Homo sapiens: one gene and its partners. Changing the gene in region 4 together with the main gene of any one other region gives a genetic interaction. Each region holds a gene or a part of one and is shown on either strand. Other genes may lie near its edges.

Region 1 (5,168 bases), on a different chromosome or scaffold from region 4:
AATACCTTTCAGAATACTAAATTACAAGCTAATCAAGTTTTATTTATACTACTTCAAATCTTATGATGAGCAAAGTATAGGGAAGGATGAGGGTTTATAGAACCATAAGGTACGACAATGCCACTGATAACATGCAGCCTATTTATTATAATCTAGTCTTTTAATAGGAAGCAAAGAAAAACAGCACAGGAAATACACTTTAAAAAGAACAACTTTACTACACTAAATTATTGGTTTACTTGCAGTCTACTAAAGAAACTGAAGTGATTTCTTATTTTTTGGGATGCCTCAGACAACTTTGGTGTAAGAAAAAATAGTAACTCATCTCCCCCAAAAAAATGCAAACATAGAAATATTCTCCATACAATTTCAGTGTATAAACCTACCAGGAAATATGAAGACATTCTACAGAGACTTGGGAAGCTAATGACTCACTGAATAGCACAGGAAGGTAACAGTTTGCATTGAAGGACCTTCCAAAAAGAATAGGAGGTAACGGTAGAGTCAGATCATAGCATCAATGTGCCAATGTCAACACTGGTTCCAAATTTTGACATGCCTTAATTAAAGCAACCACAGAATTTATGTTTTGAACACAGAAAGGGCTCTATTAATAGTCATGCAGAAACAAAAGGCATACACTGGGAGTTAACTGGACAAACCAAGATACATGGTTACACTAAATCTATCCTTTTTTCCTGCCTGAAAACACTAAAAAACCATAAGTGACAGGATGCCATACTGTTCTAAAGAAAACATTTCAAAAGATATAACTCATTATAGGTAGACCTGATGCATCTGATATAACATCACTCATATACAGTCACGCACCACATAATGATGTTTCAGCCAACGAAAGATCACATAAACAGTGGGACCCTAAGATTATAAAACCGTATTTTTACTGTACCTTTTCTACATTTAGATATGTTTAGATACACAAATACTTACCATTGTGTTACGATTGCCTATTGTATCCAATGCAGTAACATGCTGCACAGATTTGTAGCCTAGGAGGAAAAGGCTATGCCATATAGCCTAGGTGTATAGAAGGCTATACCATCTAGGTTTGTGTGAGTATACTCTGTGATGTTCACATAACTATGAAATTGCCTAAGGATGCATTTTTCAGAACATACCCCCATTGCTAAGCAACACATGACTGTATGTATACACACACACACAAACACACTAGATAGATTCACTTATAAAATACACTTTGACAGGGAACAATGCACGAACTCAAAAGACAATCCCAATAAAAGCAAGTATAAATGCTTCTGATAAAGTCAAACAGAAAAATGTAATTTTCTGTCTTAACAGGAAGAATGATGATTTTACACAGGAGGCTGAGTCATGGCCCAAATGGTATTTAGTATTGTAGTTTTCAACACCAAAAAAAGGTTAAAATTAGAAACTTGAGAAATATTCAAAAGTTTCAAAACATACATACTGTTCCTCCTTAGAAATTATGCATGGTCCTAAGTACTAATGATGCAAAGAGAAATGAGACACAGCCTTAAGAAGCAACTCAATCCAGTGAGTTCAATTTAGTCCCATCATTTGTTTTTCAATTACTCATTTCAAGTTTTCCTCATTCCTTCCATAAGGAAATTAAGCTACCCCAATTGGAGTGTGAGTTTACTAAGACAAAAGTCATTCCCTGTATTTCCTTACATTTCCTTCACAATGTATACTATTAGATATTCCTTAAGGCATTGAAAAAGAAACATGAAAATACTTTCTAATATCTTGGAGAAGAGAGTAGTATCTCCTTCACATGCGGCCAGATCCATCTTAAAAAGATCTACCTTATTTAATCACTTTGAGATTAAATTTTAAATAACCTACTAATTTAGGTAAGAAAGACAAAAGAAAAACCATGATGATACTGATGGAGATGACAGCGATGACGGTGGTGATGATGGTAGCTAACATGAATGGGTACTTACTGTGTGCCAGGCATGCTTCTAAGCACTCTACATAAATCAACTTACTAGAGCTTCACAACTATCCTATGAAAGGGAAATTATTTTCCTCATTTTGTAGCTCAGAAAACTGAGGCACAGAAAGGCTAAATGACTTTCCTATGGTCCCATAGCTTGTACACAGCAAAGCTAAGATTTGAACCCGAGCAGTCTGACTGAATCTGACTTATAGCCAGTATACTCTGCTTTTCTTCTAAGTGGATGTCAATGAAAATTACTGATTGGTTGAACAGAACAACCTCTGTCACTGAAGTTTCCGGTTACAAATTTGGCCTTTTAAGCTAGTCAGATTTCAAGGATGACACATTGGCCATTTGTACCAAGCTCTAAATTGAATCAAATTAGTCAAACTCCTATACCTGCCCAAGAGTAAGTGGAACAGCATCCTGAGTATGAGTACGTCCAATCTTGATGATCTGTGCAAACTCTTTGGATTTTGCATCAAGAGCATCATGTAACTTCTGTAGTCCTGGTAACAGTACTTCATGAACTTCTATTGCAGCAGCAATGTGCATTGCTGTGGGAAAAGTATCATTTGAGCTCTGTTGGAAATTTTTCAAAAGAAATATAAAATGTTAAATCAGAGGCAACAAAAACAAACTTCTGAATTAAACTTCTCAATTAAAAAACTCTCCAACTAACTACTCAAAACCCAGCTCAGTTACATGTATGTGTGGCATGTCATAGGTGAGTTATTATAGAATCAAATAAGCAGCATCCTGGTTTCTAACACATACTCAGAACTGTATTATACACATTAAGTATACTGAATGTATTATGTATTATATATGTATTACGTATTATATTATATTATGTATTATATAATATATTATGTATTATATTATGTATTACGTATTATATCTGCCTGCTAATAAATGACAGCAAAATACAGAGAAGTATAGTTAACAACTGCACTTGAAGACAGCAGTAGTATCTTCAATGTAGTTGAATATCTTATAATTATATCAAATTACATCAATTATTGAATTATATATTCTTATAAAATCTTATAATTGAATATCTTACAATTATACAGTGCATACAGTCTTTCATAAACAGCTCTTTATTAAGTTTAGAAAAATTCTGTGAGGTAGATTACCACTTTAAAAATAGGAAAGCCAAGCCCTCAAAGAGACTGTATAAATGCCAAAATATTTAGCAACTGGCAAACCTGAGACCTAGCCAGGTAGTATATACTCAGTGCTCTTTCCTCAACTGTTGACCCTGTACTTTTAAAACATAATATCAAGCTGGGTGCAGTGGCTCATGCCTATAACCTCAGCACTTTCAGAGGCTGAGGCAGGAGGATCAATTGAGGCCAGGAGTTTAAGACCAGCCTGGGCAACACAGAGCAATACCCTGTCTCTGAAAACATTTTTAAAGTTAGCCAGGCATGGCGGTGCATGCCTATGGTCCCACTTGCTCAGGAAGCTAAGGCATGAGGATCCCTGGAGCTCAGCATTTCCAGGCTGCAGTGAGCTATGCTCACTCTACTGCACTCCAGCCTGGGTGACAGAGTGAAGCACAATCTCTAAACACACACACACACACACACACACACACACACACACACACACACACGCATGCACACACACAGATATATATAAAAGTATACTGTCATTTAAAAAGATACATTATTTATATATTTTGACGTTTACTATGCAAAATATAAAGTACTTACGAAAGAAGTAGGATGAATGGTATAATAAACACTTATGTACCTGTCACCTGAATTCAAATAGTTTACATAATTATCAACATGTAGCCAATCACGTTTCATCTATAACTCTACCTTTCTGAGGCAGACTTCAGACTTCAGTATATATAGAACATAAATTCATAAAGGCAAGTATTAGATTGGGAAAATCCCTTATACAATGAACGTGTATTAAAAACACTTCTTCCTTACTACTTAAAAATATATTAAATTATACTTAGCACCCAGATCTCAGTTTCTAAATATCATTTTCCAATAAGAATTCTCCAACAGTTCCTTGAAAAATGGCTGTTTCTAGGGCTGGGGCAGAAACAATACAAGACAATGAGCTTGGAGCATCTTAAAGTACCAGGAAGTCGGAACACACTTCAGAAAAGTAAAAGGATGGTGGCATGCCTAAAAGGACACAAGAGCCAAATGAATTGGGTTCCCAGAGCTGAAAGAATTTAAGCAACAATATAAACAAAAGTATGGGATCATAACCTGAAGAATAAAATAAATAACCATCAGTCCATACTGATATACCCAAATAACTGAATAAATAAATAAATGGGACAGAGAGAACAAATCTTCCTTGCAGAAAAATTCAACTAACAAGTGTAGAATGAATAAAGAAAACTGAAAATCACTATTAAAACACCATGGAAGTAATTGCTGTAGATAAGATTCCCTGATGAATGCTAAAAATAGTAGGAAAAAGTTTAAGGAAAAAGAAGATGTTTGCCTAGCCTCAAGGTAGCGCGCTATTAATTACTACAGTGATTTTAATGTAAGCCCAAAAACTTTTTGATACTCCTCCCTCTAGAAACTGAAATACAGTGCCTGGAATGCAGGCAGGGTTTAGTGACCTATTTCTAATGAACAGGGTATAGAAGAGGAAAAATTATAATTTTACCATGGAGAAACCTGGCAAGTACCAGCTTAACCAAGTGATTAAGGTTAACATCACCAGTAAAAGTCATGTTGCTATCATGAACCCCTGATATGATGCAATGAGAAGGGCCCTTTATTTCTGTGATAGTTTTCTCAAAAATTCAAAAGTCTCAATCTAATGAGAAAACGTCAGACACACCAGAATTGAGGGACATTCTACAAAATACCTGACCACTGCTTTCAAAGTGTCAAGGTCACTGCTATGTGAAATCCTAACCCCTAGGGTAATAGTATTAGGAGATGCGGCCTTTGCAAGGTGATTAGTTCATAGGGCAAAGCTCTCATGAACGGAATTAGTGTCCTTACGAAGAGACCCCAGAGAGCTCCCTTGTCCCTTCTACCATGTGAGGACACAGAAAAGATGGCCATCTACAAACCAAAAAGTGGGCCCCCACCAAGCCAATGAATTGGCCAGTGGCCTGACCTCGGACTTCTAGCTGCCAGAACTGTGACAAATTAACTTCTTCTATTGTTTATAAGCCAGTCAGTCTATTGTATTTTATTACTGCAGCCCCAAAGGACTGAGACAA
Region 2 (8,554 bases), on a different chromosome or scaffold from region 4:
CACAGTGAAATCTGGTCTCTTCAAAAAATAAAAAATTTGCTGGGCATGGTGGTGCATGGCTATAGTCCCAGCTCAGAAGGCTGAGGTGGAAGGATCACTTGGGCCAGGGAGGCTGAGGCTGCAGTGAGCTGTGATTGTGCCACTGCACTCCAGCTTTGGAGACACAACAAGACTCTTAAAAAAAAAAAAAAAAAAAAAAAAAAGCAAAAGCCATGAAGCTTTTAAGAAGATTACATGATTACATACAAGAAAATCTTCATGATCTTGGAGTAATGAATGACTCCTTTAATACAAAATATAAAACAATAGACAGAGGAAAGGTCTAAATAGGACATTAAAATTACAAATGTTCATGAAGAATGGAACAATAAGCCGCAGAATGGGAGAGTATATATATTCAATACATGTAAATTGACAAAGGACTAGTATGCTGAACATATGAAGAACTGAAATTATTAAGAAAAAGAAAAGGCAATTAGAAAAATAAGCAAAAGACTAGAACAGGCATGTCATAAAATGCTCTACCTCATTTAAACTTAGGAACAAGCAAATTAACACCACACATATATCATTACACAGCAACAACTTGTTAAAACAGACTAGACCAGACTGGGCAACATGGTGAGACCCTGTCTCTACAAAAAATACAAAAGTTAGCCAGGTGTGGTGGCATGTGCCTGTGGTCCCAGTTACTTGGGAGGCTGAGGCAGGAGGATTGCTTGAGCCTGCAAGGCTAAGGCTGCAGTGAGTCATGTTTGTACCACTGCTCTCCAGCCTGGGCAGCAAAGTGAGGCCCTGTCTCAAAGGAAAAAAAAACATTAACAAAAACAAAAACAACAACTTATACTGACCACACCAACTGTAGGTGAAAATTTGGAATACTAGAAATACATTCTGTTGCTATGAACATTCTTATGCTTTAGATCATTCCAAACTGTTTTTCCAGTAACTGTACACTTTTCTCCTATGGAAACACTAATCTGTACAATCACTTTAGAAAACAGTTTGTCATTATTCTATCCTAATATCCAGCTATTCCTCTTCTGGATATATACCTTAGACTCTAGGACCTAGCAAAACAAATGAACATGTACAAGAATGTCCTTAGAAGAATTTTATAATAGCATCGAACTGTACACAATCCAAATATCAATTAGCAGCAGAATAGTTAGTGGGATGTTCATAAATACATCCTATATAAAAATTAAAATTAATGAATTCAATATGCACAAAAGCATGGCTATAAAAAATCAACACATGAAAAATACAGCAAAATGTATATAAAGTTCGTTAATAAAAACCATATTAATTAAAAATACATAAACTAAATGATATTATTTGCATAAATAGCTGAGAACACTCTAAAACACACGAAGGAAAAGATTATCACCAAAGTCTATTTTGTGATTATTTCTGGGGGAAAGAAGTGGGTTGTGATTGGGAGACTGCATATAGGAAGTTCTTAAGGGTCTGTAAATGATCTTTCTACAATTGAGTTGTGGTTAAGTGAATGTTAACTTTACAACTGCACATTGAAGTGTACATATTTTATGTATTTTTATATAATTATGCTTATCTCAACAACCACACACACTGTACACATTAAACACACACACACATATTTTTATATAATTATGCTTATCTCAACAACCACACACACTGTACACATTACACACACACACACACACACACACACACACAAGCATAGGTTGATTTTTCCATCAAAATTTGAACTGTTATCTTCAGGTAGTAAATTTTACACATTTTTATTTTTAATAATAGGAGTAAATACCTTCCCACAACAATATAATGAACATTACAGGAAAATTAAGGCAACTTATTATTTACAGAATGCCTTTCTGTGCAAAACAGGACACTATACTCTTCCTACACATTAAAGCATTAAAGATTAAAATAACTCTAAAAGGTACTTATTATCAGTGTCTTTACTGAGGCAATTACCAGTGTTCAGATAAATAAATGTCAGAGCTAATCCAAATATGAAACTTGAAATTTTCCCACCATTCTATACAAATTCCCACAGCAAACAGAGGAGGTTATTATTTTAGATAAGTCAGGGAAAGACTTTGCAGAGGAAGTAACATTTCTGAGATGGAGAAAACTAGGAGAGGAACAGGTTGGAGAACAGGAATCAAAAGCTGTTTTTGGTCAAGAGATGCCTACTAGACATTCAAGTGGAAATGTAAAGCAGGTAAAAGGTTAGAGCTTACAGAAGAGGTTCAAGTCAGTGAGAGCTGTTTTTGAAAAATATTAATGACTCAGATAATTCTCAAGAACAAAATTTCTCCCATATTTGAGAATTTATACTGATTCAATTCTTAAGCATACCGTAAATAGGTTCAAATAAATAAAACAGGTTTGAATTTATTCCTCCTATGGGTATACTCCAGTAACACAATTTGCCAGTATACATTAATATGTGATAAACTCTAATCATAACATTCTACATGTTCTTGGCTTCAGATTAAAATAACTGATTAATTTTATAATGTTTTACAATTTTAAAAATTTTTATTAGAGGTAGGGTCTTACTCTGTCATCCAAGCTGGAGTGCACTGGTGCAATCATAGCTCACTACAGCCTCAAACTTCCAGGTTCACGCGATCCTCCTCTCTCAGCCTCCTAAGTAGCTGGGACTACAGGCAGGAGCCAAGGCCTCAACCTAATATGCCCCAAAGTTGATACAAATTTTATTAGAAAAACAAACTTTTTGTAAGTCTAACAGGTAAAGGAACAAAGAATCAGATCTATTTTTCTTATAGCTTCCTTACTCTTCCCTTCCCTCTTTTATTCTTTATCACCTAAAAGCTTGGTCACCAGTAAGTTGAAAAGGTTAAAATATGGCTATGAAAGTAGAAAATATAGAAAAATATTTAAGATGTTCAACAGTAATTTTTAGAGTAAAGTTAGTTAAGCACTAGAGTTTATGCAACACTGTAAAATACAAGTATTTTACTAACTACACTGGAAAAAACACCTACTTGCAATTTTAATTAATCATTATAATTCAAAAACAGGTTTATATAACTGGCCAGGCCCTTTTGAAAATATAAGTACAAATCTTGGGGATATGTTTTGAAGCTGGCTTCGCTTCACAGACTGATAAATCTACTGTCCAAAAGTCACAAGAATTATGTCTTTATTGGTTCATCTTAGAATTAAATCAACATGGAATATGTACTTTTTGAATTAAACAAAATGTTTTGATAAAAATGAGATACGTGTGTATAAAAGCTGGAAAACTCATGTCCCCTGAAACTTGGTTTCCACCAGATGAGTTTCAAATTCAGATACTAAACACACATGAAGAAATAATCAAATGAATTCTATTCATCCTTTCCCCAAAGTTTTGCTTACAATTAAGATATAGGTATTATTTGTATGCCGAACAAACAAAATAAATTGGAAGATGTTTGGATAAACAGGGAAGTGAACACTTCAGGAACTACTATTTGCAGTTTGCAGGACAGGATAATCTTCTCTAGGAAGAATAATGTCAACATAGCAGCACTATATTCACCAGGATTCCCCAGAGCCGATGGTCCGATCATGTGGCAGGAAGCCAAATCTTCTGGCTGCTCACAATATCAATCAGCTTCCCTTTAATCTTCAGGAAGTGTCTCTTGAACTCCAATCCATCACCCTATATTAGAAATAGTATTAAAAAATTATGTCAAAACAAAAACAAAAACAAAATTCTGTCCTAAAATCAATCTCTTTGTAGTGGTAACAAGAGACAAACATCTTTAGGTATGTCTAGCTACCATTTTCTTTTCGGTCTGTTTATGAAGACCAAATATCCTGGAAGAGAAAATTGTTACACAAATAATTCTGATGTGGTTTCATGCCCATCACTGTTCCTACTGCACTGAGCTCAGAGAGCAGATAAACATGGCATCCTATCTGTTTCAGGTGTTGGTATATCTGGACCTAAGTCATTACATTCCATAGGCAGTGAGGGTTTGGAAACTAACAATAAACTATACAACTAAACTGAAGTCTTGTTGTCATAACACTACTGACCAAAATCAATAGATTTAGTTATGAGAAGAATTTCATTATACTACGATCTTAATTTAATTCTGTAGCAAGCATCTGAAAAACAGTATTGCAGCAAATCTCTAATACAAAGAGTACTGCGGCAAATGCTCTAACACAGCAGCTACCCCTCCAACCCTCTTTAGAGCCACATACAATCTCTCAGAAAATAGAGAAAAATGTTATTTTGGTTTTATATATCAAGGGCTGTAATACTATCATCTTAGAATCAATGATTTCTAAAGAAATCATCAGAAATATGAACAAAAAAATCTATGCATAAAATAGCAATCACAGAATTATTATAACTGGTAAAGGTTCATTAAATTATAATGAAATATTTGTAACAAATCATAATTTTTATTAAAAGACATAAATTAAGAAAAATATTAAAATGCTTCGAAATATTAATGTGATCACTGAAAATTTAGAATTATTTTTATTTTCTCATTTTTTGCTTATCTACATTTTTCACAAAAGCAGAAATTTCTTTTTTTTGAGACAGAGTCTCTTGTATTGTCACCCAGACTGGAGTGCAGTGGCGTCATCTCGGCTCACTGCAACCTCCGCCTCCCAGGTTCAAATGATTCTCCTGCTTCAGCCTCCCAAGTAGCTGGGATTACAGGCACCCGCCACCACGCCTGGCTAATTTTTTGTATTTTTAGTAAAGATGGGGTTTCACTATGTTGGCCAGGCTGGTCTCAAACTCCTGACCTCGAGATCCACCCGTCTCGGACTCCCAAAGTGCTGGGATTACAGGCATGAGCCACCACGCCTGGCAAAAACTTTTATAATAAGGAAAATGTCATTTGAAAAAAACAATGTTCGGGAAAAATAGATAACGAAAACACATGCTCATAATATTAAACGAAAAAAGCAAGTAACCTATTTACAAATGCCACATATATACAAACATAATGCCATTAAAAAAATTCATATAGAAATATTTCCATAGAAAGAATACAATAAAACATAAAAATACCTTAGAAAGCCGGAAGTCAACCAATATTTTATCATCCATTTCTAACAAATTCACTTTGAAAATGAGTTTATTGTTTCTCCTATCAGTTGTTGATATAGTAACCTAAGGCAACAAAAATAAGGTTAAGCCACATGGGTGAGTAGATAATAAACTAGTAAACCCACTATGAAGAACAGAATAGAAGTTTCTCAAAAAACTACAAATAAAACTACCTATATGTTCCAGCAATCCCACTACTGATCCAAAGGAAAGGAAATTATATGGAAGAGAAATTTGCAACCCTACAGCATTATTCACAATAGCCAAGATATGGAATCAACCTAGGTATCCAACAACAGATGAGTGTAGGCCAGGCACTGTGGCTCACGCCTGTAATCCAGCACTTTGGGAGGCCAAAGCAGAAGGATCGCTTCAGACCAGGCTGGGCAACATATCGATACCTCATCTCTACTAAAATTCCCAAAAAATTAGCGGGCATGGTGGTGCATGCCTACAGGCCCAGCTACTCAGGGGGCTGAGGCAGAAGGGTCACTTGAGCCCAGGAGGTTGAAGCTGCAGTGAGCTATGATTGCGCCACTGCACTCTAGCATGGGCGACAGAGCGAGACCCTGTCTCAAAAAAACAAAACAAAAAGCCAAGCAAACAGATGAGGATAATATGATATATATACACAATGAAATACTACTCAGCCATATAAAGGAATGAAATCCTGTCATTTGCAGCAACATGGGTGGAACTGGAGGACATTATGTAAAGTGAAATAAGCCAGGAACAGAAAATTAAACATCACATGTTCTCACTCATATGTGGAAACAAAAAAACTGTTAATTTCATAGAAGTAGAAGGCAGAACAGAGGATACTAGAGTCCAGGAAGGGGAGAGGGAAGGGAAAGATAGAGATTCATGAAAGAATACAAAATTACAGCTAGATAGGAGTAAGTTCTAGACCACTGTAGGATGACTATACTTAACAATAATAGAGTTTCAAATTGCTAGAAGGATACTGAACATTCCCATCACTGAACATTCCCATTCCCACAATGTTTGAAATTATGAATATGCTAATTATCCTGATCTGATCATTATACATTATATGAATCAAAACATCACTACATACCCCATGAATACATTACAATTATTGTATCAATTAAAAAAAATTTGCTGGCTACCTCCATAACAGGAGTAATATTAAGTATGCTGATAATCTCACTCATTCCAGAGTCTCTCTTCTCCCAGTGGGTATGTGTGTCCCCAACCCAATCTATCAACAGGGGTGCAGCTCCTAGGGATTGAGTGTATATGAACTCATAGCAACAAAACTTACTGTCTTTTACCAAAATACCACTGAAAGAAGAAACAATCAAAGATGAAAACATAATGGGAGGAAAAACAAGATTATTAAAATGTGAGAAAGAAAAAGGCCTGACTTGTGGCTGAAAAGCTAGAGCGGCAATTAGAAGATGGCAAAGGTCTTGAGAGGCCTTCAACTTCCACTTTCAGTCTTTTAGAACGTTCCTATGGCATGGAAAGACGCTCAGCCTAGCTGAATGATGCAGAAAGAAAAGACTCAGCTAACAGACAGTGCCAAGACTCCAAATATGGGAGTAAGGATGTTTTAGACCACCAGCCACAGTAAAGACATCAAATGACTACAGCTGGATGAGTTAAGCCCGAGCGAGATCAGCAGATTTGCCCAAAAAACACAGCCCAAATTACAAAAGTTTTTGTAATAATTCTTACTTCAAGAAACTATGAAAACACACAACCATACCACGACTGTGCAGCACTGAAATAACCCACTATGTTCTGGGAAAATTAATACAAGATATTCAACTCAACACATCTGAATTAAGCTCTTAAACTTCAAAGACAAAGAAAATACTTCAAGAACTGAGAGAGAGTGAATCAAGGAGTGATGTCAGTGAAAATGGCAGAGAAAAGAACTCCAGAAGTCCATTACTCCACAAAAGCAATTTTAAAAACCTGCCAAAGCCTGTCAGAATCAACTTTTTCAGAACATTGTAAACTAGCTAAAAGCTTGCAGCAACTTATTCAAAACAAGTGAAACGCAGTAAGAACAGTGAGCTTTCTGGCATTTTAACTTACCCTGTTTATCCCCTGCTCCTCACTCAGTAGCAGCCTTGAAAATAACAGTTCATATTTAAGGCATAGGTCCAGGTGGGAGCAGAATAAACCTCATTTACAAACTATCTTAAGCCGATCTGACCCTCTAAAATGACCTGATCAAAAGGCTTGTCCTGGCCAGGCACAGTGGCTCATGCCTGTAATCCCAACACTTGGGGAGGCCGAGGTGGGTGGATCACCTGAGGTCAGGAGTTCAAGACCAGCCTGACCAACATGGTGAAACCCTGTCTGTACTAAAAATACAAAAATTAGTAGGGTGTGGTGGCAGGCGCCTGTAATCCCAGCTACTTGGGAGGCTGAGGCAGGAGAATCGCTTGAACCCGGGATGCAGAGGTTGCAGTGGGCTGAGATCACACCATTGCACTCCAGACTGGGCAACAGTGCGAGACTCCATCTCAAAAAAAAAAAAAAAAAAAGAGGCTTGTCTTTATTTCACCTTTGTAACTCTAACTCACCTTGTGCTAAAGCTACTCCTGAGTAGCGTTTGCTGAAAACACTTACAGGAAAATGCTTTAGTCTCTGTTGCCTGAAGCAATGAAAGCAACTGGTGCAAACAGACTACCCAAGAAGTTTGGAAGAAGAGGTTAGGGAGTGAGATGTTTCTGGGGAATAGGACTCTGAAAAGGTCCAACATATACCTGGGAATCTAAAAAGACACACCCATGACCAGGGCAGTACATATGCTTAGGAAAGAGCTGAGAAGGCCCCTAAGCTCTACATGTGCCCTAACTTTGCATTTTGCACAAGCAGATAGCGAAGGCTGAAGCAACGTTGTAAACTTCTTGGTTGAGTATTGCAGGTGTGCCCCAACACAAATACAGAACACTCTGCAGATTTTTTGTTTTTGGTATACAGAATTTAAGGAAATCTCTGTCCAATCATTAGCTGACCACTAAAACTAATGGGACAGAAATTGTACAGCCATGCATGACAAACAATACCAACTTTAAAAAATTATATAAGAAAAATCACTAGGGCCGGGCATGGTGCCTCACACCTGTAATCCCAGCCACCTGAGGTCAGGAGTTCGAGACCAGCCTGGCCAACATGATGAAACCCCATCTCTAATAAAAATACAAAAAGCCAGGCACAGTGGCAGGTGCCTGTAGTCCCAGATACTTGGAAGGCTGAGGCAGGAGACTCACTTGAAGCCAGGAGGTGGAGGCTGCAGTGAGCCAAGATCACGCCACTGCACTCCAGCCTGGGCAACAAGAGCAAAGCTCCGTCTCAAAAAAAAAAAAAAACAAACACCACTAAAAAAAACAAACAACTACATCAAGCGGTAACAAACACTGGCAAGAGGGGAAAATCTGACTTTCTAGAGTTGCCACATATTGCCACAATATGTCCAGTTTTCAACAAAAAATT
Region 3 (8,554 bases), on a different chromosome or scaffold from region 4:
TGTTAAATTTGTAATGTTAGACTGCTGCCAATTCTTCAATGGGGGTGTAGGGGTGCACTGATTAACATTATAACCAACAATATAGTAGAATATCTGTTTTCTCATTGCTTCACCAGAGCATATTATCAAACTTACAGATTTTTTTCTATCAGGTTAAAAAAAAAAAAATCCTATCTCCGTATAGTTTAAATTTGCAATTCTCTTATTATAAATGATATTAAGCATTTTTCATGATTTTATCACCTTTTCTGTGAATTTTATGACATAATCCATAGAGTGTTTGGTCTTTTATGCATAAAGTTCCAGGACCCTTCGTATATTAGTGAGATTAGCCCTTTATCTGTGATGAGTTGAAATATTAACATATTTTCCCAGTTTGTCATGTCTTTTGTTTTTTATAATACAGAACTTTACTACTTTTATCAGCTTGTAACTGAATAATCCCACCTTCCTCCCATTGACTTGACATGTCTCTTTAATCATATGTTAAATTCACATATAGATTTCTAACCTAACAGATAAAGTTTTTTTATTAGTGTATCTAGTCATTTAGTTGTTTCAAATTATCAGGGTTTTAAGTTCTCCAGAATGACTAGCCTTTTCTCAATGCTCTTCTACAAATTTTTAGGATGCTTACTTTTGCCAATGAACTTTAGAATCACCTTGTCTAGTTCTATTCCTACCTCAAGAAAAACTAGAGATTCTTATTGAGACCATGTTAAATGTATAAATTAAGAACCAACATCTTTAGCTATTATGTCTTCCTAAGAATACGGTCTTAATATTTGCTCAACCTTTTCATTAAACTATTAAATTAACAGTTTTTAAAAAGTGGCAAAGCAATACGCTTAGTGACTAACTCTGTCCTATAAAAACTGCCAGGCGCGGTGGCTCACACCTGTAATCCCAGCACTTTGGGAGGCCGAGGCAGGCAGATCACAAGGTCAGGAGATAGATACCATCCTGGCTAACACAGTGAAACCCGGTCTCTACTAAAAATACAAAAAGTTAGCCAGGCGTGGTGGCAGGCGCCTGTAGTCCCAGCTACTCAGGAGGCTGAGGCAGAAGAATGGCATGCACCCGGGAGGCGGAGCTTGCAGTGAGCCAAGATCGCGCCACTGCACTCCAGCCTGGGGCGACAGAGCAAGATTCCTTCTCAAAAAAAAAAAAAAAAAAAAAAATCTACAGGAAATGACATAGATGGATAAAGGGCAACTCTACTTTTGATTCTAAAAAGAAAAATCATTTGCTCTAAAGTGCTTCCCCAAAACTAGCCTATTTATCAGGCTCACCTGCGATGCTTAAGAATAGAGAATCTTAGACCTTATATCACATCTTCTGAAGCCAAAAACAAACAAACAAAAAAAACCACTATTTTCAAACCATATGATTCTCATCACTTAAAAAGTTAGAGAAACACTGCTCCAAAGAATCAAATTTGCTTTGATTAAAAAAAAAAAAAATGGCTGGGCACAGTGGCTCATGCCTGCAATCCCAACACTTTGGGAGGCCAAGGGAGGAGGACTGCTTGAGCCCAAGAGTTCAAGACCAGCCTGAACAATGTAGCGAGACCCCATCTCTGAAAGAAAAAAAAAAGTTTCTTCTATCCTCCCCAACTCCATCCTCTTCACAGAATTGAGACTCCCTCTTTAATACTGCTGGGTTCTAAACTTTTGTGTATCCAGTCTCCCTTGCATGACAGTAAACATGTTTACATGTTTAAGACAGGGATTTGGCATTTTGCACAACACCCAGCATAATGCCTTTTAAGAATAAGCACGTAATAAGTCCTTATTGAATGAGGACAGCATAGGAAGAAAGCATTCCTAATGATGATCTTTCCATTATACACAAGATTCTCTGTGGAAATCAATCTTACTGCTTAAAGCCATGCATGACAAGACAGCTGTTAATGACTTAAAGGTACTACACGTCACACTCAGCAAAGTAAGACCCAATAGTTGTATTATATCAATGTACTTGTACTCTGTAAGAGAGTAAATTAATAATTACTCATTTATTCAGTTAAGAACCTACCATGCACCACTATTGTAAATGCTGGGTATTTAACAAGACAAACAACTGTCTGTCCCCTTAGGATTTACCTTCTAATGGGAAAGACAGACACTATGTACATAAACAGATATATAATTTCAGGTCAATGTATGAGATCTGGTGAAAAATAAATCAGGATGGCACTATATAAAAACCACAGAAGGAGGAAAGGAATACTATATTTTCGATAAGAGTGGTCAGAGAAGTCTTCTCTGATGGAACAACATTTGGAAAAACACTTGAGCACAGATCTAAATGAAATAGTAAGCAAGTGAGCCATGTGATAATGTAGAGAAAGACAACTCAAGATAGAAAGAGAAAGTGCAAAGGTGCTAAGATTAGCATAGCTAAAAGACCAAAAAGACTGACTGTTATGAGCAAAGGAAGAATGGTAGAAGATGGAGTCACAGAGATTTAGGCAGAGGCAAGATGACTGCCAGGGTAACAAGTATGAGTTTTATTCTAAGAGTGATGGGAAGCCACAGGTGAGTGACACAATCAAGTTTATATACTTTTTCAAAAGCAGGACACTCTATTGCTAAGACTACACTATAGGAAATAAAGAGTGGGGACCTGTGAGGAAGCTATACAATAATCTAAAAAGCAAGGATGAAATAGGGCAGGTAGAATGGTAAGAAGTTGTCATACTTTTAAAAAGAGAAAAAAACAACTTGTTGATAGAATGGATGTGAGATGTGACAAAGATGTCACCAAAGTTCTGGCCTAAGCAACTGCAGGAAGAGCGTCTCACTACCCCTTACTAAAGTGGGAACACTGAGAAAACAACAGACTTGTTTTTGTTCTGTGTGAGGGCAGAAGGGAAAGAGGGAATCAGGCATTCCATTTTCAGTGTTAAATTTCAGATGCCTATTCAACATTCAAGGAAACATGTTGACAGTAAATTTATAAATCTGGTGCCCTGAAAGAAATCAATGCTGAAAAAAACACTTGAAATTTCATCAGCATATATATGATATCTGAGCCATAAAACTGAAAGAGATCACCTAGAGAATACAGGTTAAAAGAAAAGATAAAAAAAAAGATCAAGTCTTGGAAACTTCAAGAATTAGAGGTCAGGTACAGAAGTAACCAAAATAAACTGAGAGGTGAACAACGAGTAGAAAGAGAACCAAGAGGCTGGTGTTCCAAATGCCAAATGAAGAAAGGCTTTCAAAAATGAGTGGTCAACAGTATCAAATGCTGTTGAGAGGTCAAGTATGGTACAAGAGACCAAAGGATGTAGCAATCCTTAAATCAGTTTTGACCTTACAAGGAGTGATTTTAGTGGGATGGTAAGGATGAAGGCCAGACTAGAGTGGCTTCAAGAAAGAAACAAAGGTAAAAAAGAAGCAATGATACCACACGAACTCTTGCAGAATATTTTACAGTATCAGGGAGGAGATAAATGAAGCAGTAGACAGTAGGAATGTGGGATCAAAAACATTTTTTAAACATGAAATCTTACTGTAGGTATTCTAAAAGGGAATGATCCAGAAGAAAGTAGAAAACTGATGATGTCAGAGAAACAACAATTTACGAAGACAAAGTCTTTGAGACTGTGAAAGGAGATGGAATCCACACACAAGGAAGGGGTGACTGGCCATAAGGGCAAAGACAGTGCATCCACTGTATAAGAAAAAGGTGAGCACATGGACAAAAATGAAGGTAGGTTAATTTTTTGGTGGAAATACAAATTCTCTTCCCTCTAATCATTATTTCATAGGGGAAAAAAGAAACAATGTCTGTTTAAGACTGGGAACAATTTAAAAAGTACTCACACGCTTCACCATTGAGATATCCAAGTAGATCTTTTCGATCAGGTCTTCTAACCACAGGAATATTTTCAGTCTAAAACCAAAATTTTAAATGAGATATGAAATGAATAACAATGATACACAACTTAATAAATATTAACATGTAATGTCTGAATTTTATTCCAACATATCTTGAAAAAACGTATTTTAAATCACATTTGTAAAAAATGACTAGGCTAAAAGAACCTAATAAAAATCCTGAAAATTTATTAAACATGTTAGTTACTTTTAATAATTTTCTTACAACTTGATATTAACATGTAATGTCTGAATTTTATTCCAATATATCTTGATACAATATATTTTAAATCACATTTGAACAAAATGACTAGGCTAAAAGAACCTAATAAAAATCCTGAAAATGTATTAAACATGTTACTTTTAATAATTTTCTTGGCTGGGCGCGGTGGCTCACACCTAGAATCCCAGCACTTTGGGAGGCTGAGGTGGGTGGATCACCTGAGGTCAGGAGTTAAAGACCAGCCTGGCCAACATGGCAACACCCCGTCTCTACTAAAAAGACAAAAATTAGCTGGGTGTGGTGAAGCATGCTTGTAATCCCAGCTGCTCAGGAAGCTGAGGCAGGAGAATCACTGGAACCCAGGAGGCGGAGACAGGCGTTTCAGTGAGCCGAGACTGCACCACTGCACTCCGGCCTGGGCAACATAGAGAGATTCCGTCTCTAAATAAATAAATAAATAAATAAATAAATAAATAAATTTCTTTTTGAAATTCCAGGAAGATATACAGAAAATAATCATTAGAAATAAAGCAATGACCAGGCACAGTGGCCCACACCTGTAATCCCAGCACTGCGGGAGGCCAAGGCGGGCGCATCCCTTGAGGTCATGAGTTCAAGACCAGCCTGGCCAACATGGTCAAACTCCATCTCTACTAAAAACACAAAAATTAGGCAGGGCGCAGTGGCTCACACCTGTAATCCCAGCACTTTGGGAGGTCGAGACGGGTGGATCATGAGGTCGGGAGTTCAAGACCAGCCTGAGCAAGATGGTAAAACCCCATCTCTACTAAAACTACAAAAATTAGCTAGGCGCGGTGACAGGCACCTGCAGTCCCTGCTACTCGGGAGGCTGAGGCAAGAGAATCGCTTGAACCTGGGCGGCAGAGGTTGCAGTAAGCCGAGATCACGCCACTGTACTCCAGCCTGGGTGACAGAGTGAGACACTGTCTCAAAAAAAAAAAAAAAAAAAAAATTAGCCGGGCGTGATGGCAGAAGCCTATAATCCCAGCTACTCAGGAGACTGAGGCGAGACCCAGTCTGAAACACAAACAAACAGTGCAAGAAAAATTGGTAGCTAACAGATTTCAGTTTAAATCCTTTGTCACTTTATATGTGTAACAATGAAGTAACAACAAGAACCTTTAGTATCTTTGGCCAATGACCTTATATTGAATACTTATTATAATTTACTGCACCAAACATTCTGCACTGACTCCTCAATGATTTAGATAAACTGTATTTAATCACTTAAAAATTAACCTTTTATTTTAAAAAGGTCAAGCTAAATTTTAGTTTCTCCTTATGAGTTTAAAAATTTGAGTGCAGAGTTTTTTTGTGCTTGTATTCTTTTAAACCAGCCTAGGCCAGGCATGGTGGTTCATGCCTGTAATCCTAACACTCTGGGAGGCCAAAGTGGGTGGATTGCTGGAGCCCAGGAGTTCGAGACCAGCCTGAGCAACATGGAAAAACTCCAACTCTACAAAAATATAAAAGTTAGCCAGGCATGGTGGCAAGCGCCTGCAGTCCCAGCTATACTCCCAGCTACTCAGGAGGCTGAAGGAGGAAGACAACTTGAGCCCGGGAGGGTAAGGCTGTGGCAAGCCAAGATCCTGCCACTGCACTCCAGCCTGGGTGACAGAGCAAGACTCTGTCTCAAAAAAAAATAAAAAATAAAAATAAACCAGTCTATATGGAATATCATAAACAGTTAAAAGATTTGAGTTAATTTTAAGTTACTGTTTCTAAGTCTAATAACTTACATCATCATTTGGTCACTACTGAGTTATGTACACATCACAATCCACTGAAAAAGATTACATCTACTCACACTAAAATAGGAACTAAGGATCAGGAATCTGTTTTCAGAGTGGTCTGCTCAGCCGGACGCAGTGGCTCACGCCTGTAATCCCAACACTTTGGGAGGTCGAGGCGGGCGGATCGCGAGGTCAGGAAATCAAGACCAACCTGGCTAACGTGGTGAACCCCCGTCTCTACTAAAAATACAAAAATTAGCCAGGCATGGTGGCGTGTGCCTGTAATTCTAGCTACTTGGGAGGCTGAGGCAGGAGAATCCCTTGAACCCAGGAGGCGGAGGTTGCAGTGAGCCGAGATCACGCCACTGCACTCAAAAAAAAAAAAAAAAAAAATGAGTGGTCTGCGCACAGGAAAGAGCAAATAACACAAAGTAATTAGGAGACAACAATCTCGAATTCATAGAATTTTGGAATTTTAGAATCCTACTCTTTCAATCTGGCAAATACTTATGAAAAATGAGTTAAATCTTATGCAACCAAGGGTCCCAAGGTCCACAGTAACAATTACAGCTATCAGTTATATGCACAACCATTTCCCAAAAACAGAATCTATAAATCTAAGCCAACTATCTGAATCTTTGTTACACTAAAATGAATATATCCAACAAAACACTGTAAGAACTACCTAATTTAGTTTTTAAAGATCTGAGTTAAAATAACCTTAAAGACGGAGCTGGTGCTATTTTTTTCCCCTTATTTTCCCAAGTAGTCCCACTCTAATTTTATTTTTTTAAATATGTAACATAAATATATATTTCTTACTCAGGAAAGCAGAAGCCTTATGGTTTAATACAAAGCCCACTAAGTGACGGGATACTTTCTCAATTGCTATAATCACACACACACACACACACACACACACATTTTTTTTTTTTCCCTGAGACAGAGTCTTTGCTCTATCACCCAGGATAGATGCATTGGTGTGATCATGGCTTACTGCAGCCTCAACCTCCTGGGCCCAAGTGATCCTCCCACCTCAGCCCCTTGAGTAGCCAGCTGGGAGTATAGGTGCACACTACCACGCCTGACTAATTTTTTTTATTTTTTGTTTTAACAAAGTTTCCCTATGTTGCCCAGGTTGGTCTTGAACTCCTGAGCTCAAGTGATCCTCCCACTTGAGCTCAGCCTCCCAAAGTGCTGGGACTACAGGCATGCACCACCACACCTGGCTTTTAGTTGCTTTAGACAACAAGTTATTGTTTGAAAGATACATAAGCCAGAAACCTTAACTATTTCTAGTTGGGAGGGAGGTTAGAGTTATAGAAGTTAAGTTTCACACAGCTTAATGTGATCCAGCAACGGTGTTAGGTAACTCAAAAAGCAGCTCCAGTGATGACAGACACAGTGATATTTTAAAAAATTGTTTTAAGAACTATAAGAAAAGTTTAAGAAGATTGTTTTAAGAACTATAAGAAATGGGAAAAAGTAGTTATTTATAAATACATTTCATACTTAATTTTAAGTGTATACTTGTAAGCAAAAGCAACAAATATTAAAAGCAGACATTTAATTATTTCAATTATATCTTCAAAAAATTTTATGTTCAACTCTACCAAAAATAATCTGAGGGAAAAGCTCATTTAAAAAAATTAAATATCTTTTAGGCCATTTTATGTGGGCATTATAGTACTTTTCCATGTCATACAGCTATCCTATCCAAATAACTCTGAATCTTATTTACTTATCAATTATAATATACTGCTATAATTTAGGTCTTAATGATACTTCCCTACAGATGAAGAATCTCATCATCATAGTTTATGAAATTAGTTCTTTTCAAGTTGTTTCCAAATATTTCCTCTGAGTAATAAATTTTCAAACACTGAGAAAGCAAGCAAAACTAAAAACAAATGAACTTCTCCAGAGTACTAAAACAGCTGCACAAAACTGATTAAGAAACAATTTTTTTAAATGTCTGCTAATCTTAATCCTTACAACCAAAAAAAGTTTTCTTGAGATTAAACTAGAGTTCTGAAGTAACAGGGTCCTTCCACAGGCTTACAAGTTTTTCTAAACATCTCTATAAATACTTTTAGCGTTTCGGGTTTTCTTTTTCTTGAGATGGCATCTCACTATGTTGCCCAGGCTGGTCTTGATCTCCTAGGCTCAAGCAACCCTACCGCCTTAGAGTCCCAAGTAGCTGGGATTACCAGCGTGCACTAAGAAGCCTGGCTCTATAAATCCCTTTAAAACTTCCTTTGTTATAAACATTACCCACACTTTACATGAAAAAATATCACAGATTAAAAAGTCTGTGTAAGTCACACAGTCACCTAATTTTGACTCTCCTGGAGACACTCATACAAACCTTTCATTCTTTTGATTTGAAACCCATGAGGGAAGCTATCCATTCCAAATGATACCTACTACCACGAAGCCAAAAAAAAAAAAAATGTGTTAATACAAAAATTAGCCCGGCATGGTGGGCCATGCCTATAGTCCCAGTTTCTCAGGAGACTGAGGTGGGAGGCTGGCTTGAGCCCGAGAAGTAGAGGGTACAGTAAGCCGAGATCACACCACTGCACTCCAGCTTAGGCAACAGAGCCAGATCCTATCTCAAAAAAAAAAAAAAAGTTTTAAAATGAATTATTGGCCAGGCACAGTGATTCATGCCAGTAATCCCAGCACTT
Region 4 (7,952 bases):
ACGCCTGGCCATTTTTTGTATTTTTAGTAGAGACAGTGTCTCACCATGTTAGCCAGGATGGTCTCGATCTCCTGTCCTCGTGATCCGCCTGTCTCGGCCTCCCAAAATGCTGGGATTACAGGCCTGAGCCACCAGGCTCGGCCTATTCATTTATTTCTAGAGACAGGGTCTGGCTCTGTCATTCCAGGCTGGAGAGCAGTGGTGAAATCATGGCTCACTACAGCCTAGACCTCTAGGATCAAGCGATCCTCCTGCCTCAGCCTCCTGACCAGCTTGGCCTATAGGCATATGTCACCACATCTGGCTAATTTAAAATTTTTTTTGGCCAGGTGCAGTGGCTCACATCTATAATCCCAGCACTTTGGGAGGCCAAGGTGGGTGGATCACTTGGGGCCAGGAGTTCGAGACCAGCCTGGCCAACATGGTGAAACCCTGTCTCTACTAAAAATACAAAAAGTGGTCAGGCATAGTGGTGCATGCCTGTAATCCCAGCTACTCAGGACGCTGAGGCAGAAGAATCACTTCAACCCAGAAGGCGGAGGTTGCAGTGAGTCAAGACTGCGCCACTGCACTTCAGCCTGGGCAACCCAGCGAGACTGTCTTAAAAAAAATTTTTTTTTAAATAAAAATTTTTTTTTTTAAAGAGATGGGGTCTTGCTACGTAGCCCAAGCTTGGATGTTGTATTTAATATGTGAATAATTTCCTAAGCCTGGTGTAGCAATCATCTATCTGGAGAGGGCAGGGAAAGAGCCCTTCATGGTTCTTTGCCCATGGCCCACTCCAAACAGGGTCATACCTGCCAAAGCAGTGACAGCATGGAACACAACAGAACTGGACCAGCCCTGCTGAACTGGCTGCTGCAGAACACAGCTACGCCCCTGCAGGGCCTGAGTGGAATCCCCGACACTCCTCTCTGGGTTCTGGCAGGAGCAAGGGAAAGATGGTGTACACACTCCAGAGGAGGCACCTGACTCAGGTGCCCAGCTCACCTGTACACAGGGTGTGGCTGACAAACTGGACACACACTGCTGTCCCTGCTGGCCTCCAGCACCGAGTCAGGAAGCCACACAGCTGAGCGACACTCTGGGAAACCCATGCAGCTGAGGTAGAACCTGGGGACAAAGTGCCATGTCAGATGATAGGAGTGCAGGAGATGCTCTCCGCTGTTGGCCATCAGCTAAGGCAGCCTTTCCTCAGCTGCCCGAGGACAACATTCCCTTTTCTGGATGACACTTAACTGGATACACAAGCACTCATATTGAATTGATTGGGAAAAATGAGCCTTCTCACATCCCAAAAGCACAAAGCAGCTATTGCTGGCCCTGCTTTCTATTTAGAAAACCAACAACCAACCAAGCTGACGCCAGGGGCTCTGTGCTGTGCACTCACACATTCTTGCCTTTCTGCCTCGTGCCAAGTCTGGGCAGTGTCAGGGGCCCCCTCAGTTTGCATGTGAGTAAACAGTGGCTTGGTGTGGCCTGGAAACCTGCCCAGAGACATGCATGCATGTGTGGATGGGAGCCAGGAATGGAAACCCATCTGTTTGTGACAAAGCCTCACCTGCAACATCTACACCCCACCCACTGCCCATCCATCCCATCCCGGTCTCTCCTGGCCAATGTTTTTCAACACCTTGCAGTCATGAAACGTTAGGGTTTGACTAGCTAATATGCATGTGATTTACAAATTCCTCATGAGTGTGCCTGGGTACACTATGAAGGAAAAAAAAGCCCCGAACTCCAATCATTTAAATAAGAAATTTACAATCTCAGAAATGGAAATTAACAGATAAATCATGGAGTGGCAAATCCCACAAGATAATCTCCTGACCTTCTGGAGTAACTCAGAGAAGCATTACAAAAGAATAACAGAAGAACAAACGAATAACTAAAGAATAATAATAATTCTCCAATTCAGAGAATTGGAGAATTCAGAGCTAAAACAAAAGTAGTTATTCTCTCTCCTTATATTCCAATGAGTACTAATCCAATAACCTACCGATAGCAAGGAAAACCCATCGACAGCATTTATTAAGTGCTGAAATATACGCCCAGTCATTGGGCTAAGCCTAGAGTGGCACTGGCTTCTGTCTGTGAGTGACGCGAGCCCTGACACCTGCTTCCAGGTCTGGCCCATAGACCTCTTGTTTCTGAGAGCCTGGGTGGCCTTCTCTTCACTTGGGCCAGCCAGGTTAATGATGGCTGGAGGTGAGGAGTTGAGAAACCTCCTTTCTTATTCAGCAGCAAGGAGCACAGCAGTCCCAGGTGGGCCAGGCAGGATGGAAAAAGGCAGTGAAAACCCGGTTTCAAACTCTGCTGCCCACCACGGCTGCTTGACTCCAAGCAAGCACCTCAGCCCTCTAAGCTGCATAAAAATCCCTGCCTTGCAGGGTAGTTAGGAGAATGGGATGAGGTAATGCTTACAGAGCACCACCCTGCATTACACCAGTGAGGGACGGCACCTGATGAATGATGGCTGCCACCCCTCCACCTCGTCTTTCCCCGTGAACTTCCTCCAGTGGCCAGCCACTGGCTCCAACAACCTGATGTGAAGCTAAATTGCCCACTCAGATCTACTATATTTAAAGCGAAAAGGGAGTTGAGATTTTCAGGCCCCATTCAGAACTAAAACTAGGAGAGAACAAAAGTAGTATCTGCTGAGTATCTACAACACATCAGGCAATGTGCTATATAGTCCTGACCATTTTCACCAAATCCTCACCCTTAACACAGCCTTGTAAGTACTGACATTTTATAAAAGAAGAAATTGGGGTTCAGAGCAGGTAAGTAACTTGCTTCAGGCCACACCACTTATATGCGGCATAAGTGGCATTTGAACCCAGACCCACCTAGATCTGAAGCTCATGCTCCTCCATGTGTTACACATTGGGTATATGATGTCCTATCCACAGGGGACAAAAAAACCCCACTATCATTCAGTTTCTCACCTGCTCTGAATTCCCATAGTGCTTTACACCTCAAAGGCCTGATCCCACCCTGCTATGCTTTTAGGCCAACACCTTGCCTGCAGGTTGGCAACAACAGGCCTGTCTTGAAAGATTCCATGGAGTGAAATGGCAGGGTCTTTCGAGCTACGGCTGACACCGCAGGTGCTGGGGAGCAGAGGTGGGGGCAGAAGGCAGCGCACTCACCCGCCATTCTTCTTGGTCTTAAGGACCATGTCCTTGTTGCACTGTGGGCACTTCCTGATGGGCTCTGGCATGGCTGGGTAGATATCTTCTTGCTGGGCCAACTCTGTCCCATTCCCAAAGTACTGGGCCAAGGCCTCGTCCAATCTGAAGAAAAGGCAAAGACAGACACCCATCAGCCAGCAATCGCTGCAAAGGCACCTACAACACTCTTACATGCACACAACAGGCGTGACCTTGAGAACCAGCTGGTCAGTGAGCCGCAGGCCTCCTGCAGAGAACAGACGGCAGACAGAAGACTGAGCTCACCATGGGCCCTGGTGCCGAACCAACTCTTGGGAGGAGAGTCCAGATACAGGCAGATGCTTCTGCTTGTCACCAGCCCACATTAAAAAGTAAAACTGGGCCAAATGTGGTGGCTCACGCCTGTAATCCCAGGCCGAGGCGGGCGGATCACCTGAGGTTGTAATTTCGAGACCAGCCTGACCAACATGGTGAAACCCCGTCTCTACTAAAAATACAAAATTAGCCAGGCATGGTGGCGCATGCCTGTAATCCAAGCTACTCAGGAGGCTGAGGCAGGAGAATCGCTTGAACCCAGGAGGCAGAGGTTGTGGTGAGCCAAGATCACGCCATTGCACCCTAGCCTGGGCAACAAGAGCGAAACTCCATCTCAAAAAAAAAAAGTAAAACTGCACAGGGTCCATGTACAAACTCCAGGAGTGTCTGTCTGTATTAAGTCTAAACTAGCTCATGCCTGCCTTTTCACAACTGGCATGGGGTACTCTAAAGAACAGAAAATAACAAACTGTTATCTTCTATTACAGTCTCACAACACACATCAGACACCAGATGTATGGGAGTTTTCCCCATACACCAAGCAACTCTCCCGCCACACACCAGTTGGACATCCTCTAATTCAATTCAATTCTGACACTATGCACCTGGAGATCCATCTAACGGTTAAGGGCTCAGTCCCAGAAGACTGCTGCCCCAAATTCCCTCAGATGTCAGTCACAAATCCCAGGCTGTGACCTGTGCTTCTGACTGACTGGCTATAAACTGGGGTTCCTCAGACCCCCTCCTTGGTTTGATTCTCAATAGAGTGGCTCACAGAGCTCAGGGAAACACTTTACTTATGCTTACCCGTTAATTACAAAGGATCCAGGTGAATACCCAGATGGAAGCAATGCACAGGGCAAGGGATGTGGGGAAGGGGTAGCTTCCATGCCCTCTCCCAAACACCCACCCTCCAGGAGTCTTTACCTGTTTAGCTATTTGGATGTGCCCCAAACCCAATTGTTTGATTTGTTTTTGTTGTTGTTGAAGAAGTCTCACTCTGTTGCCCAAGCTGGACTGCAGTGGGGCAATCTCGGCTCATTGCAACCTCCACCTTCCGGGTTCAAGCAGTTCTCCTGCCTCAGCCTCCCAGGTAGCTGGGACTACAGGTACGCACCACCATGCCTGGCTAATTTTTGTATTTTTTTTTTTTTTTTTTAGCAGAGAAAGGGGTTTCACTGTGTTGGCCAGGCTGGTCTTGAACTCCTGACCTTGTGATCTACCCGCCTCGGCCTCCCAAAGTGCTGGGATTACAGGCGTGAGCCACCGTGCCTGACCCTTGTTTGGGGATTTTATGGAGGATTTATTACTTAGGCATGATTGACAAATCACTGGCCACGTGTGATCAACTCAACCTCCAGCCCCTCTGCTCTTCCTGAGGTAGGGGTGGGACTCAAAGTCCCAACCTTCTAATCACAGGGTTGGTTCCCTGACAACCAGACCGATCCCAAGGCTACCCAGGAGCCCTTGGCCACTAGTCATCTCATTTGTATACAACAGACACAGCACTTAAAAAATTCCAAGGGTATCAGAAAATGAAGTCCAAATATATATATCTTATTATAAATCATAATATCACAGGTAGAAAACACATCATTTCTAACAAAATACACACATGCTGCTTGCTAAATATCCACCTCTAAATGCTCCAGAAAACAAATGGATCACACTCCAGCACTTGGGTTTACTGATTTAAAAGACTTTGTTGCCTAACTCAAGATAATTAATGTGTCATGTAATTAAAGCAGAAAAAAAAAAGATAATTAAAATCAAGAGAATGGTATTTCTAAAGCCAATAGTTCAGAATAACTGAAGGAGACTGTTCCGATTACTGTTTCTATACTGACAAAGCTCTATGGAGAGTTGTAAAAGAACCCAGAGAAGAAAGTCCAAAGAAAAGGGGTATGTGGAAAACCTCCAGGCCAGGAGGCCACTGGTGAGGATGAATCTGGCAGGGTTATAAACTCTGACTGGCCCAGATGCGGTGGCTCACGCCTGTAATCCCCACACTTTGGGAGGCTGAGGTGGGAAGATCTCTTGAGGCCAGGAGTTCAAGACCAGCCTGGGCAACATAGTGAGACCCCTCTGTATTTCTTTTAAGGACTTACTTCTTTGCTTTAGCCACCGCTTCAATGAAAACCTGCTTGTATTTCTGCACTTGCTGCCTTAGAACCACAAATTTGTCCTTTTTGCCATCACAGATCAGCTTCAGATCAGCTTCCAGTTCAGCCCGGAGGTCAGGCTTAGACATTTCATAGCCCATGGAATCATAACCTGCAGGGAGAGAGTCGAGCTCAGTGAGGGCCCACCTGAGACCCTCAGGGACTTGGGCGACACCACCCACTACCCACTGCAAGCTCTGTCCTCCCTTACCTTCCACAAGTCCCATGCCCAGGTGCCCAGGGAGGAACCGCTTGTCTGGGGTGAGGCCCACGTACATCCGGGCTTTGATGGTCTCGATGTGCTCCGCATGAGTGGCATCCGTACCTGGAAGCCACTTGCTGGTTACTCTGAGGTAATACAGACAACAGCTCCACCCGGGTGGCGCATGGGCACCTTGCTCACCCCGGAATCCCTCCTTTGCCTGGACAGCCTATGCAGGTAAGATGCCTTCATTTCATTCCCATATAGCTCATTCAAGAAATCACAATGGCAACCTCAACTCTCTTGTTCCCTCACATCCCATTACTCAGGAAAGCTGTCAATTCCAGCTTCAAAGCTCTTTTTAAAAATTCTCTTCCCCATGTGTCCAAGCCATACTTGCAGCTTGTGTCCCTATTTCTAGTCTCTTCCTCTACCCTAACCATTCTTTAAGCTGTGGCCAAAGGGACCTTTCAAAATGTAGCTCTGCCATGAAGGAAATGCAAATTAAAACTGCAGTGAAGGCTGGGAGCAGTGGCTTATGCCTGTAATCCCAGCATTTTGGGAGGCCAAGGTGGGCAGATCATCTGAGGTCAGGAGTTCGAGACCAGCCTGGCCAACATGCTGAAACCCTGTCTCTATCAAAAATACAAAAATTAGCAGGGTGTGGCGGCACGCACCTGTAGTCCCAGCTGCTCAGGAGGCTGAGGCAGGAGAATCACTTGAACCCAGGAGACAGAGGCTGCAACGAGCTGAGATGGCACCGTTGCACTCCAGCCTGGGTGATGGAGTGAGACTCTCTTTAAAAAAAAAAAGAAAAAAAAAAGGGCTGGGCGTGGTGGCTCACGCCTGTAATCCCAGCAATTTGGGAAGCCGAAGCGGGCAGATCACGAGGTCAGGAGATCAAGACCATCCTGGCTAACACGGTGAAACCCCGTCTCTACTAAAAATACAAAAAAAAAAAAAAAAAAATTAGCCGGGTGTGGTGGCGGGCACCTGTAGTCCCAGCTACTCAGGAGGCTGACACAGAAGAATGGCATGAACCTGGGAGGCGGAGCCTGCAGTGAGCGGAGATCGAGCCACTGCATTCCAGCCTGGGCAACAGAGCGAGACTCCACCTCAACAATAACAACAAAAAAACAACCAAAAAAACCAGTGAAATAGCAGTTCAGACCTACTGGCAAAATCAAAAAGAGAGATAATACTAAGTGTTAGTAAGGATGTGGATAAACTGGAATCCTAGTGCCTTGCTGGTGGAAATGAAAAACGGTACAGCCACTTCAGAAAAGTTTGGTGGTTCCTAAAAATGTTAAATGTAGAGTTACCAAGTAAACCAGCAATCCCACTCCTAAGTCTACCCAAGAGAAATGAAAACACATATCCACACAAAACCTTGTACAAAACTGTTCACAGCAGGATTATTTATAATAGCCAAAGAGTAGAAACAACTCAAGTGTCCATCAACTGCAACCTCTGCCTTCCGGGTTCAAGTGATTCTCTTGCCTCAGCCTCCCGAGTAGCTGGGATTACAGGCGCCTGCCACCAAGCCCAGCTAATTTTTTCATTTTTAGTAGAGAAAGTGTTTCACCATGTTGGTGAAGCTGGTCTCGAACTCCTGACCTCAAGTGATTGGCCCACCTTGGCCTCCCAAAGTGCTGGGATTACAGGTGTGAGCCACTGTGCCTGGCTCTTTATAGGAAATAACTAAAGTAGGCAAATCTGGCCAGGTGCAGTGGCTCACTCCTGTAATCCCAACACTTTGGGAGGTTGAGGTAGGAGGACAGTTTGAGGGTGCAAGTTCAAGACCAGACTAGGCAACATAGCAAGACCCTGTCCCTACATAAAACAAAAAAGTCTGGCTGGGCATGGTGGCTCAGGCCTATAATCCCAGCACTTTGGGAGACCGAGGCGGGTGGATCATTTGAGGTCAGGAATTCGAGACCAGCTTAGCTAACAGTGAAACCCCATCTCTACTAAAAATACAAAAATTAGCCAGTGATGCGCACCTGTAGTCCCAGCTACTCAGGAGGCTGAGGCAGGAGAATCTCTTGAACCTGGGAGGCGGAGGTTGCAGTGAGCTGAAATCGTGCCACTACACTCCAG

Evidence for each region.
Region 1: changes in TOP3A (region 4) and FH are lethal when combined (synthetic lethality), as found in Homo sapiens cells (one large-scale study listed by BioGRID).
Region 2: changes in TOP3A (region 4) and CHEK1 are lethal when combined (synthetic lethality), as found in Homo sapiens cells (one large-scale study listed by BioGRID).
Region 3: changes in TOP3A (region 4) and CDC73 are lethal when combined (synthetic lethality), as found in Homo sapiens cells (one large-scale study listed by BioGRID).

Annotation. Positions count from the first base shown.
Region 1 is NC_000001.11:241,506,256-241,511,423, forward strand, and holds part of FH (fumarate hydratase, mitochondrial), read right to left. Parts: intron 2,531-5,168; coding exon 2,348-2,530; intron 1-2,347. UniProt on the Homo sapiens protein: Catalyzes the reversible stereospecific interconversion of fumarate to L-malate. Experiments in other species have demonstrated that specific isoforms of this protein act in defined pathways and favor one direction over the other.
Region 2 is NC_000011.10:125,650,335-125,658,888, reverse strand, and holds the end of CHEK1 (serine/threonine-protein kinase Chk1), read right to left. Parts: intron 5,144-8,554; coding exon 5,042-5,143; intron 3,665-5,041; coding exon 3,569-3,664; 3' UTR 1,742-3,568; downstream 1-1,741. UniProt on the Homo sapiens protein: Serine/threonine-protein kinase which is required for checkpoint-mediated cell cycle arrest and activation of DNA repair in response to the presence of DNA damage or unreplicated DNA.
Region 3 is NC_000001.11:193,125,523-193,134,076, reverse strand, and holds part of CDC73 (parafibromin), read right to left. Parts: intron 3,904-8,554; coding exon 3,834-3,903; intron 1-3,833.
Region 4 is NC_000017.11:18,279,546-18,287,497, forward strand, and holds part of TOP3A (DNA topoisomerase 3-alpha), read right to left. Parts: intron 5,976-7,952; coding exon 5,862-5,975; intron 5,763-5,861; coding exon 5,597-5,762; intron 3,297-5,596; coding exon 3,153-3,296; intron 1,114-3,152; coding exon 991-1,113; intron 1-990. UniProt on the Homo sapiens protein: Releases the supercoiling and torsional tension of DNA introduced during the DNA replication and transcription by transiently cleaving and rejoining one strand of the DNA duplex.